Linked DNA regions of Homo sapiens: all the other regions are reported to be linked to region 3. The links are microRNA targets in miRTarBase. Many come from high-throughput screens and were not tested one by one. Region 3 holds a microRNA gene; each other region holds the end of a gene's coding sequence.
What was found. The annotated mature microRNA hsa-miR-6855-3p reads AGACUGACCUUCAACCCCACAG and lies in region 3 at 4,188-4,209, shown strand. An mRNA with a match to its seed (bases 2 to 7 or 8) in the 3' UTR can be bound and repressed. Matches are read on the target gene's strand: a 7mer-m8 pairs with bases 2 to 8, a 7mer-A1 pairs with bases 2 to 7 and ends in A, and an 8mer does both.

Region 1: the mRNA of CYP4F11 is a reported target of hsa-miR-6855-3p. Seed matches in the 3' UTR shown: 7mer-A1 at 5,395-5,401.
Region 2: the mRNA of RFC5 is a reported target of hsa-miR-6855-3p. Seed matches in the 3' UTR shown: 7mer-A1 at 6,461-6,467.

The regions. Positions count from the first base shown.
Region 1 is chr19:15,907,212-15,914,307 of GRCh38, forward strand. It overlaps CYP4F11 (cytochrome P450 family 4 subfamily F member 11), which reads right to left. Exons shown (of 12, transcript NM_021187.4): 11 at 7,094-7,096; 12 at 5,166-6,698. The coding sequence ends at 6,521. It also overlaps the pseudogene LOC729654. Among named protein-coding and RNA genes, the nearest start is that of CYP4F2, 13 kb to the left of the region's middle.
Region 2 is chr12:118,030,747-118,037,842 of GRCh38, reverse strand. It overlaps RFC5 (replication factor C subunit 5), which reads right to left. Exons shown (of 11, transcript NM_007370.7): 11 at 5,609-6,661. The coding sequence ends at 6,565. WSB2 (WD repeat and SOCS box containing 2) reads left to right here. Exons shown (of 9, transcript NM_018639.5): 6 at 1,333-1,505; 7 at 2,519-2,629; 8 at 2,750-2,857; 9 at 3,485-5,156. The coding sequence ends at 3,647. Among named protein-coding and RNA genes, the nearest start is that of RFC5, 18 kb to the right of the region's middle. RefSeq lists enhancers at 2,111-2,160, 2,171-2,230.
Region 3 is chr9:129,865,463-129,872,581 of GRCh38, forward strand. MIR6855 (microRNA 6855) reads left to right here and starts at 4,143; the gene lies at 4,143-4,209. It overlaps USP20 (ubiquitin specific peptidase 20), which reads left to right. Exons shown (of 26, transcript NM_001110303.4): 11 at 2,543-2,987; 12 at 3,400-3,540; 13 at 3,848-3,963; 14 at 4,210-4,382; 15 at 4,991-5,085. RefSeq lists an enhancer at 4,758-5,257.

The DNA of each region.
Region 1 (7,096 bases), not on the chromosome of region 3:
CTGATATAAACATAGCTACTCCTATTTGATTTTGGTTCCCACTTGGGTAGAATGTCTTTTTCCATCCCTTCACTTTCAGTCTATATGTTTTTTGATAGGTAAAGTGAGTTTCTTATGGGAAGCACATAGTTGGGTCATTTAAAAAATCCATTCAGCCAGTCTATATATTTTAAGTGGGGGATTTAATCTGTTTACATTCAAAGTTATTATAGGTAAGAACCTTCTTCTGTCATTTTATTCATTGTTTGCTAGTTGTTTTGTATATCTTTTATTCCTCTCTTCCTCTCTTATTGTTTACGATTGTGGTTTTGGTAGTTTTCTGTAGTAATAAGGTTTGATTCTTTTCTCTTATGTGTATCTGCTTTGCCAGTGGATTTTATACTTTTGCATGTTGTCATGATGGTAATGATCCTCTTTTCACTTCCAGATGCAGGACTCCCTTGAACATTTCTTGTAAGACAAAAAGCTCAATATTGTCAGGATGTCAGTTCTTCCCAACTAAATCTATAGATTCAGTGAAATCACAATGAAAATATCAGAAAGGTTTTGGGTTTTTTTTTTACAATTTAAATTTTTACTAGAGAAAGATATTATTCACATCCACAATTTCTTAAAGTCCTTTATAAATGAGTGTATTCCATAAGAAATACACTAAAATCATTACTTATGTTTCATAGAGGGAAAAAACTATGAGAATACTATTAACCCAAACTATATCCATATTATACTTATTTCTTAAGCATTTACATGTTCAAATACGCTTGTTGGATAGTGATCATTCATCCCCACAGTGGTAAATTTCAGCATAATATTAAGTGACTGAGAGAGACTAAAGTAGTCACATGTAGATTAGATAAACAGATACTTATTCTGTTATACCTAAGCTTACTTATAAAGCAACATAAAATGAGCATTGGATAACAATGAAAACAAATGTAAACAAACAGAATTAAATGTTACTCCCTTCCCTGAAAAACAACAGATAAAAGGGCTTCTTGCTTTATTGAATACAAAACATGATCTATTGTAATAAAAAGGTAAGACATTGATTTTACAAAATTATATTTCCAAATACAGATAAAAAAATCTTGAACAGTTAATTCAGATTTTATTGATCTAAAATGTGCAAAATATCTGATAATACTTAAGTTTATTAAATTCATTGTACATAGGCTGATATCATCCCATACAAAAAAATGCTCAGTATCTTGTTAAGATTCAAAATAGTGTTTAATTATCTGAGCTTAAGATTTATTGAACTACTATCCAAATAACAACAAAAGTCCATATTGTAAAAGAAAAAAGTAAAACTAAAAATTTTCTGATTATTAATTGACTTGAAATTCATTCCCATTAAAACATAAAACTATAGCCAATATCCATTTGCAAAGTGAAGAAAAACTGGAAGTCCCCATGATAAATACACCAATTCCAAATAAAAAATTAAAATCAAATTTTGCTATTACAAAACACACATGATCTTTTAAGTTATTCAGGTTTAATAGATTTACTAAGGATAGAGTTCATAGAGCATGTATTTGGTACTTCTGTTTAGACTCAGGTATTTGCAAAGTACCCCAAGAGAAGGTTGAGAAGGTAAAATAAACATAAAATTGTGATACTTCTCTCCACACCACAACAAAGGTGCTTGGATTTAAAAATTCAATTTGTAACTCTAGAAGAAAAAGAGAAACAATTTACAACTCCAAAATATTTTCCAGAAAAATGACAAAACTGGTAACTACCTAGAAATGTTATTAGTGAATCAAAGTGCAAGTAATGACAGCATTAACATCAAATGTATTTGAAGACTCAAAGTTTTAAATGTTTTCAATGACAACTAGTTGATTTTTCTAAGGTGGTAGGTGTGAAATAAAGATAATACAAATCTAATTTTTCCAGGAACTATAGCACTGCCCGTCCCCATGAAATTAAATTATAATTTCACTGTTCAACATAATATAAAACTGTTTTGAGTAACAGTGAAATAGAAGCATGAATTTAGATACACACCAGCCCTATATGATGGACTTATTCACACATAGTATTTTTGATAACAACCTAATTAGATACTGTCTTTCATTGCTTACTATAATTCTGAGAAACCACTTTTAACAGTATACATTTACACTACCACTTAACTAAATGGGGACATATAAATATATAAATTTTTAAAGAAAAAAATTCCAGTTATTTAGAGGAGAAATAAAACTTCAATTATTTACTTTTTTGAAACTGCATTTAGATAAAAAGGTATATGGTTTATGATACTTTTCACAATGTAATAAATTTATATTCCAATTTTCTCATAAACGAGAGGTTGTAAAGCAAAATATTTGTTCCTTGAAAATAACCTCTCTCTTCTAACCCTGGTAAGAACAATGAGTGTGCCCTTAATTTCAAGACTCTTGTTGTCATCCATGTCAATTGTCTTTTTCATGAAGTATAATATTTTGAGAGAGAGAGAGAGTTGTAAAAATTAAAGAGAAAACCTGCTTTTGGAATGCAGCAATTCTAAATCATTTCACTAAGAAGCATCCTTTGATATGCTGGTCTGAATTTTTAATATAAAACCTAAGCAGTACTTATTTCTGAAGTAGAACTTTCTCCAGTTTTAATAACTTCATACATAGCAAGACTAAGGACATCAACCTGTGCTTTTGAGATTTTGGTAGGTGTTCTAATAATGTATTATTTTAGATATGGCTCATTGTCAAATTGGGTGGACAGAGATTTCATGAATTGGTTACAGAAAGCTAACTAAACTCTTAATGACTGAATAATGGTTTGCATTTTGCTTGAGCCAAAAAAGATGTTTAAGCCATGTACCACTACATTCCCTGCTTAACATTCCTAAGTTTCTTTATTCTTCATAGTTTTCTAATGAACATATATTTTCCTGAGTAAGATTATAAAAAAGTTAACCTTTCTTCCAAAAGTATAAAGACAAATAAAATGTCGACTCACAATACATATTTTTTGCATAGCATTAAAGGTGCGGAGATATTGCCTGCTCCTCTTCATTATGATTGGCCCACCTCTTAAAAAGACTGCAACAGGCCGGGCGCGGTGGCTCACACCTGTAATCCCAGCACTTTGGGAGGCCGAGGCGGGCGGATCACGAGGTCAGGAGATCGAGACCATCCTGCGTAACACGGTGAAACCCCGTCTCTACTGAAAAATACAAAAAATTAGCCGGGCGCGGTGGCAGGCGCCTGTAGTCCCAGCTACTCGGGAGGCTGAGGCAGGAGAATGGCCTGAACCCGGGAGGCAGAGCTTGCAGGGAGCCGAGATCGCGCCACTGCACTCCAGCCTGGGCAACAGAGACTCCGTCTCAAAAAAAAAAAAAAAATACTGCAACAGATGATTCAATTGTCTAAAATACTTCGAAGTACAGAAATTAAATGCTTTAGCCCATAAACATATCCCTTATCTACTGTGTTGCTAAGGAACATATCAGCCATATCTATCATGCACACTTCAGCAGTCTCTTGGCAACCAGTGGGAAGATGGTAGACAACTTTTTCCAGTTGGGAAAGTACATTTCCATTTAAATGTTCCTGTGACATGCTTTTCCACCCATTGTCTTGCTCTAGATTTTCAACTTTCAATGAAGTCTGACTGTGATACTTTTTTGTATACATTTTCCTGTGATGGGCATACATCTTGGACAAGCTTTTGCCTACTGAAGCCTCTATTTTTCCATTCACTGTGGAAGTTAATACATGAAAGTTATTATTGCACTCTAGTACTTCTGTGTCTGACAGTTGTCCTTTGGACAAAAACTTTTCTGCCAAATTTCTGTCATTCAGTTTTGTAGTGATTGGCTGAGATGAACCTTCCTAAAGAAACAGTAATGAACTTGCGTAAAAGTTAAGCTGCTTCTGGTTTTCAAACCACTGCAGAATTTTCTCAGTCTTCTGAATAATGGCAGCAACAGCATCTTTTATTAAGCAGTACCCATTATGAAAAAATCCGAAGACTCCATCCTTTATAGCTTCTTTTGTTAAGCTTCTTCCATAATGTTGGTTTGTGTCTCATAGCTATGGGAATGAACAAGATAAACCCTCATGCCAAGCACCAAGAACCCAATCTCTTCCATTAATGGGTCCTTGCTGACCTATTGCTGAATTTTCTCAGATGAGGCAAAAAGGATCATAGCTTTTTTGCCCTGTCTTTACATCCATTATACAGGGCTTATTAAATTTATGGGTCACATTTTCCAGTTTTAGGTATAAATCGTTTGGGGCAGCGGGAGGTGGCCAGATGCCATAATATTTTGGCAAATATTGTCGTAGCTCTAGAAGAACACCATCGGTACAGTCAGCAGCATAAACCATATTATAGAATTCCAGCTCTCTTGGGCCCCTTGGAGGTGGTTGTAACTGTTTCAAAACTGTGCCATCTGGATGTTGCAGTATACCCATTTTGTCCTTCCCATACCTGTGCCCGGCCACCTGATGCAAGATGGGCACACAGCCACTGAGGAAGCGGAGTCTGCCGCCTGCCGGCTGCAGGGTGCCCTTAGGGGTGGCCTCGATCGCCGGTGGGGTCCGCATTTCTGGGGGACCCGGCGCCTCGACCCGGAGCGGGGATGGTGGCTCTCTTGCCATAACGGAGAACAGAAGCGGTAGGGTCAGCAAGAGCAGGAAAAGAAAAATAGGGGGAGGGAGGGGGCGCCGGAGAACCCAGGGGTCGCTCAGGCTCGGGCGCGAGGAGGCCCGGGGGTTCCCGCGGCTGGTGCCCGCTGAGGTGAGGGGAGGGGGCCCATGACGCCGCGGCGGCGCGGGCACTCCCTCTGCCCAACTCTCGGCTGAGCGCGGCTCCCGGCTCAGGCCCCTCTGCCGCCGCAGCCGCGGGCCCAGTAGACACAACCCAGCCGAGGAGCAGCAGCAGCAGCAGCGGCGCCCCGCGCTCCCTGGGGCCCTCCAGAAAGTTTTTTTATGGATATCAGCAATCTAATTCTACAATTTATATGGAGAGACAAAAGACTCAGAATAACCAACACAATATTGAAGGAGTAGAACATAGTTGGAGGACTGACAATATCCAAGTTTTAAGACTTACCGTGAAGCTACAGTAACCAAGATGTTGCGGTATTGGTAAAAGAAAAGAGAAATAGGTCAATGGAACAGAATATTAAAAGCCCAAAAAATAGATCCAAATAAATATAGGCAACTTATATTTGATAAAGGTGCAAAGGCAATACGATGGTCCCAAATAAAAAATATAATGTATTTGGAGATCAGAATCAAGGCCAGAGTAACCGAGTGTAGCAAGGGAAGGAGATCAGCTACAGAAGAGATTAGAGAAGTCAACAGGGTTTAGCGATGCAACATCCCTTAGGCTATGAAAAGAGATCAATGTTTGTAGCAGGATTTTATTTTGAGACACTGACTGAGGTTTCTCTCATTCTCCTACCACCTCACACAGTCAGGTACCTTCACCATCCTCAGGAAAAAAAAAAAAATATATATATATATATATGTGTGTGTGTGTGTGTGTGTGTGTGTGTGTGTGTGTATATGTATATATGTGTGTGTGTGTGTGTGTGTGTGTGTATATATATATATATATAATATATATATATATATACATATCTTATATGCACAGCCCTCTAGGAGAAGAGGTTGTTCAAGGAGCACAGATATTAGAATTTTTGCCTTTGAGTTCCAAAACACAGCCTTTAAAGTCGTGGTAGAAATAACGATCTTGAAAGACAACATTCTTTAACAGCCAGACTTTCTGAGACAGGAAATAATAATGGCTCCATATATTTAGCATTCATTGTGTGCCAGGCACAGCTCTGAGTCCCTTATATTGAGACCTCAGGAAAACCCTGATATAGGTAATGCTGTTGTCTCCATTATATGGTTGAGGGAACCGAGGCACAGAGAGAGGAATTAACTTGCTCAAGTCACGCAGCAGAGCCAGGACTTGAGCCCAAGCAGTCTGGCTCCAGATCCTATGCCTCTGAAAGTAAGGGAAGAGAGTCACAGAGAGAACGCACTGGGAGGGGGAGAAACAGGGGTGGGAAGTTGGTGGAAAAAGGAACTAAAAATTTCTGAGAGCCTGCCAGGGTGGAAGCTGCACCCCTTTCCCTTTGTTCTGAGCTGAGGACTCCAGTCTTGGGAGGACATTCCCAGGACAGATGAAGGGATCTGCCCCTATGGTTGTTTCTCGCTGAATCAGAGTCTCAGTCTTGCTCCTTAAACCCATTCTTAATCCTGTTCCCTCTCCTGCTCAAACACCTCCCAGGGCTCCCTACTGCCCACAGGATAAAGTTTTTACTTGGGCTCTGGGAGAACCCACTAAGGGCCTAGATGCCCTGTGCTCAGCCAGAGAGGCCGTCAGGGTTTTGGGTTCAGAGACGTCACCCTGCCTCCACCCACTCACCTCCCTTTCTTAGATCCCACCAGTCCCCAGGAGCCCCATGCTGGCTGTCAACGAGGCTCAAGCAGAGGTGTCAGCATAGTTTTGTTTCTGGGACTCTACAGAGGTGGGTGGGTGGGTAGGACAGTCACTGTGAGTTCGCACCCAGGGGCTCCACCCGCAGCCAAAGTCCACCCTCTGCGCGCAATATCAGCTCGGGTTTCCTGCGGGGTTCAGTGTGGGTCGGCAGGATGCGGAAGTGCAGCAGGGTGAGCGCCAGGACCACCTTCATCTCAGCCATGGCGAACGCCTGCCCGATGCAGTTTCTGGGGGCAAAAGTGAGGGAATCTGACTGTGCCCATGACCCCCATCCCGGCCCCATCATGCTTAGAACCTGGCCTGGGACCCCAAACGCACCCACATAGGCTTGAGGGGCAGAAAGAGGGGATAAGTGTCCACAGGACTCCCATGTGTGCTTGCATATCCCCCAAACCTGGCCCAGGCTCCTACCCCCAGTTCAGATAAACAGATGAAGGAGGGGACTCTGAGCACACCGCAGACCCCTCTAGGACCTTCCCAAACCCATTCTGTGAACAGTTGCCCATGAACTCCTGAGGAAGGGAGGGAAGGAGAGCTGGAACTGGGACCATCTGTAACTTCCCCCTTTTTGGACCCCTGCACCCATCATGCCATCTCTGCCTCAGACACAGGCCATCCTTACCTG
Region 2 (7,096 bases), not on the chromosome of region 3:
AAATCCAAGAACAATTTGAGAACAGTTCTGTTTGAATTTTGTGTTGCGTTGAGTCACTTGCTGTGACTGAAGGGAAGGTTGAGAGTTCACCATTTGGTACAGCCCAGGTGGTTCATCATTTATTTTTGTGGTTTGGAGGGTTTTCTTTTCTTTTCTTTTCTTTTTTTTTTTTTTTAGACAGAGTTTCGCTGTTGTTGCCCAAGCTGGAGTGCAATGACGCAATCTCGGCTTACTGCAACCTCCGCTTCCCGGGTTCAAGCGATTCTCCTGCCTCAGCCTCCCGAGTAGCTGGGATTATAGGCGTGCTACACCACGCCTGGCTAATTTTTTGTATTTTTAGTAGAAATGAGGTTTCACCATATTAGCCAGGCTGGTCTTGAACTCCTGACCTCAGGTGATCCGCCCGCCTGGGCCTCCCAAAGTGCTGGGATTGCAGGCGTGAGCCACCGCGCCTGGCCTGAGGGTTTTCTTAAAGGAATAAAAATAAAATCCTCTTAATGCTTCTCACAAAGGTTTAAAGTGATGAGCTAGGTCAGAGGCCCAGTCTTGGGACAGATTTCCATGGTTCCATACACAAGGTGGGGGGTGTAAAATGCCTTGGCAGCCTGCCACTACTTTGTGGGGTGGCCGCAGATTTCACTTCTGACCCTTTAAAAAAAATTTGAGACAGTCTTACTCTTTCGCCCAAGCTGGAGTGCAGTGACGTGATCTCAGGTCACTGCAACCTCCACCTACCAGGCTCAAGTGATTCTTCTGCCTCAACCTCCCAAATAGCTGGGCTTACAGGCGTGCACCACCATGCCTGGCTAATTTTTGTATTTTCAGTAGAGATGGGGTTTTGCCATGTTGACCAAGCTGGTCTTGAACTCCTGGCCTCATGTGATCCACCCACCTCAGCCACCCAAAGTGCTGAGATTACAGGCATGAGCCATCGTGCCTGGCCGCTGACATTTATTTTTAAGTGGAATAAGATAGCACTTGGCTCAGGTCTTCATCAGCACATACGACTACCCTATTGGCAAACAGGACTCAGAAGCAGACTCAGAAGTCTCTGCACATGCGTTTCAGCAGGGGTCTTCCTAAGGCTGATCTGGTTTATTCTCTCTTATAGTGAGCTCCTTGAGCATGCCCATTGTTTTAAATCCTCAAGAATCCAGACCAGTTGCCTTATTTAAACCTACACCACACGTTCTGGAAGAGCTGTAGAAAAGGGATAGAGAATCAGCCCTGGCTGCAGGGCCTGCAGATTTGGTGGTGGTACCTTTCCCTCCCTCCGTTTGAGTCCTAAGCACTTTGCTTCTGCCCTAACCAGGCACTTCTTACTTTCCACAGGTCTTTCTATGGAGCATGAGGTCCTACACGTTAATTCGGAAGCTAGAGGGCCATCAAAGCAGTGTTGTCTCTTGTGACTTCTCCCCCGACTCTGCCCTGCTTGTCACGGCTTCTTACGATACCAATGTGATTATGTGGGACCCCTACACCGGCGAAAGGCTGAGGTCACTCCAGTAAGGACTGAATCCCTGCTATGACTTTTTTGTGGGGGGACTGATGAGGAACCTGCCTGGGATTAGACATGTCTCTTTTAGAATCTGGGACATGGGAGGGGACAAGCTGGATAAAAAGGCACAGTGGGTCTCTTTTGAGACGGAGTCTCGCTCTGTCACCCAGGCTGGAGTGCAGTGGCGCAATCTTGGATCACTGCAACCTCCACCTCCCGGGTTCAAGCGATTCTGCTGCCTGAGCCTCCCGAGTAGCTAGGACTACAAGCGTGCGCCACCAGGCCTGGCTAATTTTTGTATTTTTATTAGAGATGGGGTTTCACCATGTTGGCCAGGCTAGTCTCAAACTCCTGACCTCAGGTGATCCACCGCCTCAGTCTCCCAAACTGCTATTATAGGCATGAGCCACTGCGCCTGGCCTGGTTCATTGCTTCTTAGTGATGCCTTGTCAATTAAGCCCTCTCAAGTAGCTTTGAGTGTCTTCCAGTCTCCTGATTCAGGTGGCTGTGTGTACTTCTTCGGAATCAGCATTATGAAGCCTCAATATGACTCTTTATTTCCATTTACTAATAACTGTAGTAACAAGTTCAGAAAGAGCCTCTTATCGAAACTGTGCTTTCCAAAATGAGTTTCATGTTCTCACAAACTTGGTCTCCTTTTTCCTTTTGTGTCTGTTGTTTTATGAAGCAAATAATAGGCAGTCCTATAATTATCATGTATCTTAGCCTAAAAAAGACTTGCAGTTTCTACTGTGGCATTAAAGTGAGGGCTGACCTACTTTGCATAAGCAAATTAGCACAAGGAAGTGTTAGTAACCCTTCATCCACAGGACACCTGGAGCCTTCTGAGATACCCTTTTTTTTCCCAGTGTGCAAATCCCAAGCTTTTCCACGAGGGGCACACAATGCATCTTGAGCCCTTTTGTAGCCAGGGCAGTTTGGCTTCCTGCCTAGGGTGATGATGGAGGGTGGAGAGCAGCCATCACTCCAGGCCTGCCATCCTGTTTCTTTCCTTCCCAGCCACACCCAGGTTGACCCCGCCATGGATGACAGTGACGTCCACATTAGCTCACTGAGATCTGTGTGCTTCTCTCCAGAAGGCTTGTACCTTGCCACGGTGGCAGATGACAGGTAACGAAGAGAACTCTCTTTACATGGCCTCAGAACAAGTGCTTGCAAGTAATGGCAGCAAGGCCCTCTTGGTCTGGCCCTGGGTCAGCTAATATCCAGATGTTCTCTCTCCCCATCCAGACTCCTCAGGATCTGGGCCCTGGAACTGAAAACTCCCATTGCATTTGCTCCTATGACCAATGGGCTTTGCTGCACATTTTTTCCACATGGTGGAGTCATTGCCACAGGGTATGTATTTGTTAGCTGAACAGATGGGTGGTGCTTTCTGCTGAGTATACCATGGAGCTTTTTAAGGAAAGAAACCATCTAGAATTTTCTTGCCTATGAGGAAAGCTTTAAGGCAATTCAAGATTATATAAAACTCAAATGATCGATTTTGCTAATAACGGTGTCCCATTTTCTCTGAATATTTAACCTAAATGTAATTAAAGATCTGTAAGTCATGCCACCTAATGGGCCAAGTTCACAAGGGAGAATAAAATTGAGATGATGCATAATATATGGGAAACCATTTAGGGCTAAAAGACCACTTTACAGGTAACATCTATAATTCAGTAGGTGGCACTCTTCCCCCTTATACTTTTGAACTAACTGTGGTCAGATTTAGAAAGGGCTGTGCCGAGAGAGAGACAGAGAGAGCGCTTTGGTATCACAGGTGTCTTGAGTTTTTCTAATCCTATCAGCAGCTTTAATTATTCAGCACCACAATTTTACATCCATTTCCACAGTCAGGGTTACATTTCACTCTCCGAAGTCTCCTGCTCTTTGCAGTCAAAACAGAAACATGAGTATTCATCCTCATGAAAACATGAACATCCAAGCTCTGTCTTAGCATCGGTTTCTGTTTCATTTTAGGACAAGAGATGGCCACGTCCAGTTCTGGACAGCTCCTAGGGTCCTGTCCTCACTGAAGCACTTATGCCGGAAAGCCCTTCGAAGTTTCCTAACAACTTACCAAGTCCTAGCACTGCCAATCCCCAAGAAAATGAAAGAGTTCCTCACATACAGGACTTTTTAAGCAACACCACATCTTGTGCTTCTTTGTAGCAGGGTAAATCGTCCTGTCAAAGGGAGTTGCTGGAATAATGGGCCAAACATCTGGTCTTGCATTGAAATAGCATTTCTTTGGGATTGTGAATAGAATGTAGCAAAACCAGATTCCAGTGTACTAGTCATGGATCTTTCTCTCCCTGGCATGTGAAAGTCAGTCTTAGAGGAAGAGATTCCACTTGCACGGCAACAGAGCCTTACGTTAAATTTTCAGTCCAGTTATGAACAGCAAGTGTTGAACTCTTTCTGCTTGTTTTGATTCAAAGTGCAGTTACTGATGTTGTTTTGATTATGCAACTAAGTAGGCCTCCAGAGCCTCTCTAGTGGCAGAGCAGCTCACACTCCCTCCGCTGGGAACGATGGCTTCTGCCTAGTACCTATCCTTGTGTTTCTGATGCAGTGGTAGCATTGGTTCAAGTTCTCTCCTGCTGTGGTCAGAGTTGCTTCGATGTTGGCCAAGTGCTTTTCTTCTTGGGCTCCCTTCTGACCTGCAGGACAGTTTTCCTGGAGCCATTTGGTATGAGGTATTAATTTAGCTTAACTAAATTACAGGGGACTCAGAGGCCGTGCTCCTGACCGATCCAGACACTATTACTGGCTTTTTTTTTTTTTTTTTAACAATGGTGTGCATGTGCAGGAAATGACAAATTTGTATGTCAGATTATACAAGGATGTATTCTTAAACCGCATGACTATTCAGATGGCTACTGAGTTATCAGTGGCCATTTATTAGCATCATATTTATTTGTATTTTCTCAACAGATGTTAAGGTACAACTGTGTTTTTCTCGATTATCTAAAAACCATAGTACTTAAATTGAACAGTTGCAAAGATGTCTTAATTGTGTAAAGAATTGGTGTAGTCATGACTTTAGCTGATACTCTTATGTACGAGATCTGTCTCTGCTGTTTAACTTCATTGGATTAATCAGCTGGTTTCAACTCTACTGCGAAACAAAAATAGCTCCTTAAAAGTACTGTTCTCCTTCAGTGGCATGTAGTTATCTAATCAAGACACCTCATTCAAACAAAACCTGCCTTAGGAAAATTTAATATATTTTAAATTATTTTAAAAGAAATACAACATCTTATTCTTTAGCTTTCTTAATCGGTGCTTTATGGAGGCCAGTGTAACGTTACATGACTCGTTGAGAAAGTTGAGGAATTTCCTCTACCACCTTTGTTGCTTGAAGAAAAACATGTCTTTTCAAAATGAGAGGCTTTCATTGAAGAAAAGAAAAAAACAACAGTTAAAAGCTTTTGGCTCTCTGTTTCATTTTTTTCCATTAAGAAAAAAAAAAGTCCCCTTTTAAAACAAGCAGGGCTGGGTGTGACGGCACATGCCTGTAATCCCAGCACTTTGGGAGGCTGAGGTGGGAGGACTGCTTGAGCCCAGGAGTTCAAGATCAGCCTGGGCAACAGAGTGAGATAAGACCCAATCTTTATTTAAAAAATAAATAAATAAATAGCCAAAAAAACTTAGTGTGGTGCTGGTGTGCATGGTAGCCCCAGCTACTCAGGGGGCTGAGGATGTGGTGGCATTTACCTGTGGTTCTGTGGTTCCGGCTACTCAGGAGGCTGAGGTGGGAGAACTGCTCGAGCCTGGGACATGGAGGCTGTAGCGAGCCACGATCGTGTCACGGTATTCCAGCCTGGGTGACTGACAGAGCATGATCTTGCCTCAAAAAATAAACACATAAAACAAGTAGTACAGCAGAAGAGCTGGGAATGGATTGGCCAACGTTTACATTTCATGGTTATCTTGAAGTTCCAGGTACAGCAGATGCTGAGCCTCTGGGTGGTTTGAGGCCTGGTTGGCCATCAGATATTTAGCTTCATACTTTGCCGCTGTCCTTAAGGGGGTGAGTCCTCCATGAACAAAGGGAATAGTGACTTTTTCCATTTGACAGTTTAAGAATTTGACATTTTATAAAGAACAGCATCTAAAGAAAGTTTATTCTGTGATATTAGAGACAGAAGGTTTTCATATAAATGCAAGTTTGACAAAGTCAGCATCTTTCTAGCTGTCTAAGGAAGAGTCACTTGTAACACAGCCAGCCAGGAGGCTGCTTTGTTTTTTATTATAAAGAACACTAACACAAATGCAGCATGATTGCTGTAAAATAAATGTGAAATTTGTACAAAAGTCCCAGTCCTTCCGCAGTTCTAGGTTTACAGTCAGGCTCAACCTTACTTGCCCCGCTCCTGCATGAAAACAAGTGCGTTTTATACAGCCTCTGCCACCCAGTGGCATAGTTTAAGGCTCTATATTATATTTAAAATTAAGGTTTTTTTCCTATCATACACATCAATTTGGAACCTGCTGGTGACTCTTCTACCACAGAGGGTAAATAAAAAGACCAGTTTTTAAAGTAAGAGGATTCAGCTCATCTTATAAAAGTATAATAGTTTCGGCCAGACGTCCATTAACATCTGTTTAAATTAGATACAGACACAATGCCAAATATTAGAATCATAAATGTAATTTTGGAGATAATGTTTACCTTGAGTAGGAAGACACTTGGACCATATTAAATTTGAAAGTCTTCTGTTCCAGACCAAAATGGGGTAGGCTAATTCCCTGTCATCCAAGCAACTAAAAGGTAAAAACCTTATAACTTTAAAATAAAAAAGGTTATTTTTTTCCCCTATAAAAGACAGGCAGTATGAGTTAATACATTAAAATTATTTTGTACATCCCTGCTCCAAACAACCACAAAAATGGTACTTTTTAAATGCCTGCCCATCCTCTCCTGGAAGGGGGTTTTTCCAAGATTCGGGGTGACTGATTCATCCCACAGCCCCAGGCAGCAGTTTATCCTGGAACTGTCCTCTGTTCTCCCATCACTGCTGAGCCCTGAGAATTGTGAATGGCCCTCAGAGCATCTAGGCCTCTGCAACAATCAGGTCTCTGGTGACTTGAAATGCAGCAATGAGGGAGCTCAGCTGGATCTTCTCGTTGGTGCCAACAGAAAGCCTGTACCTAACAGAAACCAAACACAGGGTAAGAAAAAAGACACCAAACACAGCTGCCTTTTCTTAAGGGACCAAGAGATCTAGGGCTGAAAATCTGTTGAAGGAGTGGGGATGGGAATTGATAGAACAAATGTGCCCTGGATGGCAATCTTGTATGTGTCCCCCTAACATTTTCTTCTCTGCCCTACACATTGATTTATAAATGTGATGTTTCAAACTTGTAAGGACCGATTCAATTTTAAAAATTATTAGGTATCAGGCCGGGCGTGGTGGTTCACACCTGTAATCCCAGCACTTTGGGAGGCGGGCCAATCACTGGAGGCCAGCCTGGCCAACATGGTGAAACCCCCGTCTCTACAAAACAAACAAACAAAAAACAAAAATTAGCTGGGCATGGTAGTGCATGCCTGTAATCCCAGCTCCTCAGGAGGCTGAGGCAGGT
Region 3 (7,119 bases):
ATCGCAATGGCAGCTGAGCACTGGTTGGCAGGTCTCACGGACCAGGCTCTCACTCCTAAGCCCTTCACACGTGTGAGGACAGTGGAGCCTCCCAGCAACCTGCTGACATTTAACCCCACTTCACAGATGGACAGACTGAGGTTCAGGGGCCGAGCCACTTGCACAGGCCACACAGCTAGTAAATGGTGGAGGGGAATTCTTTTTTTTGTGGGGGAGGGTGGGTACAGGGTCTCACTCTGTCACCCAGGCTGGAGTGCAGTGGTGCAGTCATGGCTTACTGCACCCTCGACCTCCCGGGCTCAAGCAGTCGTCCCACCTCAGGCTCCGAAAGTGCTGTGATTATAGGCATGAGCCACTGCACCCGGCGGAGGGGAGATTTGAACCCAGGCAACCTTGCTGCAGGGCCTCCGCGTTGCACCCAAAATGACACAGGGTTTCATTTCCCCAAACCACAGGCAAAATTTCACTTTTATTAAAGTAAAAAGTTTGATTAAAAATTTTTTTTAAATCTAGAGAACCCTTTTGAAACCAATCACATTTTTCTATTTTATAAAATAATGAGACCAAGACAGAGTGCAGCCACGCGTACACCTCAGCCCCGGGCTGATGGCTCCTGCCCTCCAGCCTCCTGCCCCAGATGGCCCACAGCCTGGGCTTTCATGCCAGGCCTGCAGGCAGAGCTGGACCTGGCTGGGTCACCTCTTGTGCTGCCTGAAATGAGCACCATGGACGGAGTGGCAGTCATGTGGGGACAACTTCCGCCCTCTACCCCCTGCCTGCTGTCCCGTCCCAGGATGAAGTCTGCTGGGCCTTTGGCTCCTGCTTGAGAAGCTCAGCACTGCCTGGACACCTCTCTTTTTGGGGAGTGATAACATGCACAATGACTAAAATTCACTGAGCACCATTTAAGTGGTCACAACTTAGTCCTCATAGAAGTCTCACAAAGTGGGCACTGTTGTCACCCACACGTTACAGGTAAAGAGCTGAGGCTCAGAGAGGTTCTACCCCTCACCCAGGTCACACAGCACATCCTGGCAGAGATGGCATTCAGGCCTACCTGAGCCCATCCCTCAGCACAGCACCACCCTGACTGTGTGCAAGGCGCCCTGCCGGCTTTCAGCTCTGGGTCAGGATGCCGTTACGGAGGGCCATGCGCTGCGGCAGGACTCCATCTGGGCTCCGGCAGAAGCATCCCTTTCTGTGGTTTTAGGATATCGTGTGGGGACACTTCTGAGGCTGAACTGTAGACGCAGCTGCGGGCGCCTCTTAAGGGCCAAAAGACTCTTTTGTGCTTCTGCATGGATTGAGATTTTGGCAAGGAACACATAGTACTTTTGTTGAAAGGAAGAACCAGAAAGAGAAGTAGATGGCAGATTGAAAGCCTCTTCTTGAAAGGGCCTTTGATCGTGCCTGCCACAGGACACGTGTCCCCTCCCTGATGCAATGTAACCTCGTGGTTCATTCCTCTGATCTTGGAGCCTGACACTTTGCCTTGGGGAGTCCCTCCTGAGCCCTCCCTTCCCTGCACATGAGTGGAGAGAGCCGGGATCCTCTTCCCAGATGTGTGACATGAGGCTGGCTCTGGCTGCTACGTGACCCCTGCCTCCTGGGGATCAGAGCCTGGGCTGAGGGCTGCTTCTAACAACCAGGTCAGGGACTGCTGGGGCTGATTTGGGCTCGGAACCCAAGTCCTTCTCCAATGCCCAGCACCACCCGAGCACCCGCTAGCTGCTGGGGTCTGCTGCCACCACCACGTTCTGACCTCCCAGTGCACCCCCTGTGTGAGCACACAGATCTCAGTGGGGCTCACTGGGCGCCTCTGCCCGAGCCCCTGCTGCCTTGGCTTCCTGCTGTGCTGGTGGCCCAGTCACAGAGTGGTCAGGATAAAATGGTCATTGCTGGGATTTGAGACCCAGGCAGCCTGCAGGGGCAGCTTAGACTGAGTCATGACCAGGTCTGTGGGAAGGTGAGAGCAGGCAGTGAGGGTATGTGGGGGCTGGCACAGGGACTGAGGGAGCAGGGGGAGCCAGAGGAAGGGTAGAGCATGCAGGCAGTCTGGCCTGTGGGTAGCGTGGCTTGGGGCAGGACTCGGGTGAGTCCTCTTTTGGCATCACACTCCCTCATCCTTCCGCCACCCCCCTGCCCACCTCCACTGGTCTCATCTGTAGGGAGAAAGGTGGCTCGGGCTTAATGTGGTACTGCCTCTCTGTCCCTCCCGTGCTGAGCTTGCAGCAGAGGCAGGAGATTCAGAGCCGGAGCCGGGGAGTTGCATGGACCCAGGTGCATACCTGGCTCTGACACTTTCTAGCTGTGTGTCCTGGTAGGTGTCCTTTAGCCTCTCCAGTCCTCACTGTTATCCTCAGAAGAATGGGGTTAGGACAGACTGCCATGGGAGGCCGCTGTGGGGGTGAGCAACTCTTCTGCAGGGGGCGCCCATGAGGTCCTCCTAGATGGAGGCTGGCGCTCTCATCAGCCACAGGGCGCTGGAGACTGGTTCCTCCTGCCTCCAGGGGAGCCCTGTTGATGCAGCCCCTGGTTCTAGGACACCCAAGAGTTCCTTCGCTGCCTGATGGACCAGCTGCACGAGGAGCTCAAGGAGCCGGTGGTGGCCACGGTGGCGCTGACGGAGGCTCGGGACTCAGATTCGAGTGACACGGATGAGAAACGGGAGGGTGACCGGAGCCCATCAGAAGATGAGTTCTTGTCCTGTGACTCGAGCAGTGACCGGGGTGAGGGTGACGGGCAGGGGCGTGGCGGGGGCAGCTCGCAGGCCGAGACGGAGCTGCTGATCCCAGATGAGGCGGGCCGAGCCATCTCTGAGAAGGAGCGGATGAAGGACCGCAAGTTCTCCTGGGGCCAGCAGCGTACAAACTCGGAGCAAGTGGACGAGGACGCTGATGTGGACACTGCCATGGCTGCCCTTGACGACCAGCCCGCGGAGGCCCAGCCCCCGTCACCACGGTCCTCCAGCCCCTGCCGGACGCCAGGTATCAGCTGGCCGGGGACTGCGGGAGGAACCTCAGCCTATGGCCCAGTACCTACCGGGTGCTGAGCGCCGACCTGCAGTAGCCCCCGGGGGACGGGTTCTTCACTAGACCCGAATGACAGTGGGGAAGTCAGCCTCCGGGGGGGCTCAGTGATGTGCCCAGGGTCCCCTAGCTCATAATGCTGGAGCCCAATTCAGAGCCCTCTCCCAGAGCCCTGAGCCTTCCAGCCGGACATGGATTGGACAGGTCTGCTCCGGCCTGTGTGCTGGGGCCAGGAGTGGGCACATGACAGAGGAGACACATTAGGGTCAGGCTTTCGTCCCTTTAGGAGGGGCTGGCAGGTCATCTTCCTGCCCACTCGTGGAGCTGGCCTGGCTGCCCTGGCCCAGCATGGTACCCTCTCTGCCCCCAGAGCCGGACAATGATGCTCACCTACGCAGCTCCTCTCGCCCCTGCAGCCCCGTCCACCACCACGAGGGCCATGCCAAGCTGTCTAGCAGCCCCCCTCGTGCAAGCCCCGTGAGGATGGCACCGTCGTACGTGCTCAAGAAAGGTTCGGGGGGCACGGGAGGGTGGGTCAGCTTGAGGCTGGGAGTACAGATTACGCCCGTAGCTGCCTTTCTCATGGCCCCCTGTGGCGGAGGGCCGGGCTATGGGCTCCTCTCAGGTACACCCCTGAGACACCAGTGTGGGAGCCACGTTTTGCAGAGGATGACACAGAGGCATGAGATGGTGAATTGCTTACCCAGTCATGTGACTCACGGATGTCACTCCACATCCTGTCAAAGGAAGCCGCAGGGCCCGCACCTCGCCCCGGCCAGGCAGGTGGAGGCTGGGCTAGTCCTGTGCTGTGTCCCCAGCCCAGGTATTGAGTGCTGGCAGCCGGAGGCGGAAGGAGCAGCGCTACCGCAGCGTCATCTCAGACATCTTTGACGGCTCCATTCTCAGCCTTGTGCAGTGTCTCACCTGTGACCGGGTGGGTGCCCCAGGGATGGGGGGAGCTGGGCCAGGCTGCCAGTGGCCTCAGCAGCTCTTGCCCTGACTGGGTGCAGGGTGGGCTCTCCACGGGTGCTCCCTGCTTTTATCCAGGGGAGGGCCCTGCCTGCGTGGATCCCGTGTCTATGGCCTGGGGAGTAGTCCCTCTGCCCCTCACCTGCTGCTTGGGGTTTGGGGTGCAGACATTGCCAGAGGATGGGCAGCAGACTGACCTTCAACCCCACAGGTATCCACCACAGTGGAAACGTTCCAGGACTTATCACTGCCCATTCCTGGAAAGGAGGACCTGGCCAAGCTCCATTCAGCCATCTACCAGAATGTGCCGGCCAAGCCAGGCGCCTGTGGGGACAGCTATGCCGCCCAGGGCTGGCTGGCCTTCATTGTGGAGTACATCCGACGGTGCGCCCACCTTGCCACTACTGGGCGACATGGGCTGGGCCTGTCCTGGTTTTCCTGGGCGGGAGACAGTACACAGTGAAGTCCATGCATTTGGGGAACCAGGGAGGTCCTGGGAGGAGCTGGGGGCCGAAGCCTGCAGAGGAGTTGGCTTAATATGCAGGGGATTTCTTGGCTACTTTGAAGTGGCCAGGATTGGATAGTCCCTTGGAGCTGGAGGGCGATGGACAGCAGGGAGGTGACCACATGGCAGGTTGAAGGGAGGGCAGCAGCAGGACACAGGCCTGGTTGGCGGGAAGGGCAGCAGCTTTCCCAGGGCTGCCTCTCCTGCCTGAGGCCAGAGACCCGCATGACCCCAGGGAGGGGGTAGCATGATCATGGCCGCAACACAGATGAAGGAGGCCAGGCTTGCGGAGAGATGATGTCACTCGGCCCAGGACACGGACGTGTCTGGCTCCAGGCCTCTGCCCCGACCCGCCGTGCCCGGCTGCTTCTCTGGGCCTTCAGGGTCCTTCTGCGGCTCAGGCCTGACAGACCTCAGCCAGAGTCCCTTCAGCTCCTGTTCTTGCCCAGGCCCTGGCAGCACCCCTGCACTCCTTTTCTGTCTGTAGGTTTGTGGTATCCTGTACCCCCAGCTGGTTTTGGGGGCCTGTCGTCACCCTGGAAGACTGCCTTGCTGCCTTCTTTGCCGCTGATGAGTTAAAGGGTGAGGGGCCTGGCTGGCAAGGGTCGGGGAGGTGGAGGGTTGTGGGGACGGGGATGTGCAGACCCCAGCAGGCCAGCATGCAGCCCAGGGCTTGTGGGATGCACAGCCAGGCTAGACTTGGCTTCCAAGGTTGATCCCATCAGATACCCACGCCCACTGCCAGCCACGCTGGACCAGGGCCATGTGCTATCCCAACCCCATCATCTTGCAGCTCTTGAGTGTTCACTTATTTTTATTTTTACCAATTTGGTGGGCAAAAATGATGTATGTTAATTTTTCATTTCCTTGATTACTGATGAGTTTCTACATTTTTTGTTAAATATACTGGCTCTATGTATTTATTTAAACATTGCCCATTCCTGTTCTTGTTCTTTTTCTCCGTTGGCTATTTGGCATCTAAACCTTTGGGAAAACTCTCTCTTTTTTTTTTATTTCCAATTTTCAATTGCGATAAAATACACAAAATGTAAAATTTACCACCATAACCATTGTAAATGCTGTTTTTAACAGAAAGTGCACAGTCGAGTAGTGTTAAATACATGCACATGGTCACGCAGCCATCCTCCCCATTCATCTCCAGAACTTTTACATCTTGCAAACCTGAAACTCAGTATCCGTGAAACAGCTCCCTACTCCCACCTCCCAGCCCCTGGCAACCTCCACATTCAAGTCTGTGAATGTGACTACTCTAAAGGCCTCATAGAAGTGGAATTATACAGTACTTGCCATTTTGTGACTGACGGCTTTTACTGAGCATAACGTCCTTAGGGTTCATCCACGTTGCAGCGTGTGTGTCGGAATGCCCTGCCTTTTGTATGCTGGTTATTTATTGTTCCATTGTGTGGATGGCTGGGGCCTTTCTGCTTATTCGTTCATCCGTCAGTGGACACTCAGGCCGCTTCCCTGTTAGCTATTGTGAGGAATGCTGCTCTGACCATGGGTGTGCACACCTCTCTTCTTTCATCCCTTTGGGTCTATGCCTATTTTTAATTTCTCGAGGAGCCACCGTACTGGGTTCCACAGTGGCCACCCCATTTCACATTCCCACCAGTGACGCACAAGAGTTCCAGTTTCTCCACATCGTCGTCCACACTCATTTTGTTTACTTTTTTGATGGGAGTCAACCTCATGGGTATGAGGTGGTATCTCATTGTGCGTTTTTTTTGTTTTGTTTTGTTTTGTTTTTGAGACGGAGTCTCTCTCTTGACGCCCAGGCTGGAGTGCAATGGCATGATCTCGGCTTATTGCAACCTCCACCTCCTGGGTTTAAGCGATTCTCCTGCCTCAGCCTCCCGAGTAGCTGGGATTACAGGCACATGCCACCACGGCTGGCTAATTTTTGTATTTTTAGTAGAATGGGGTTTCACCATGTTGGCCAGGCTGGTCTTGAACTCCTGACCTCAGGTGATCCGCCTGCCTTGGTCTCCCAAAGTGCTGGGATTACCGGCGTGAGCCACCGCACCCAGCCTCGTTGTGGTTTTGATTTGCATTTCCTAATGATAGTGATGTTAAGTGTCTTTTCATATGCTTGTTGGCCATTTGTAAGTGTTTGGAAAAACATCTATGTGAGTCTTTTGCCTATTTTGTTTTTTGTTGCTTGTTATAGGGATTCTTTTTTTTCTTGAGACAGAGTCTCACTCTGTCACCCAGGCTGGAGTGCAATGGCATGATCTTGGCTCACTGCAGCCTCCGCCTCCTGGGTGCAAGCAGTCCTCCCATCTCAGCCTCCCGAGTAGCTGGGATTATAGGCACGTGCCACCACACCTGGCTAATTTTTGTATTGTTAGTAGAGATGGGGTTTTGCCATGTTGGCCAGGTTGGTCTCGAACTCCTGACCTCAAATGGATTTGCTGCCTTGGCCTCCCAAAGTGCTGGGATTACAGGTGTGAGCCACGGTGCCGGCCTCGTTAGTTAGAGGAGTTCTTTATGTGTCCAGATACGTGACTTATAACCCTGTCCTCCCATCCTGTAGGGTGCGTTTCATTCTGTGGTTTGTGTCTTTTGCTTTGGTTGCCTGCACCTTTGGTGTTGTGT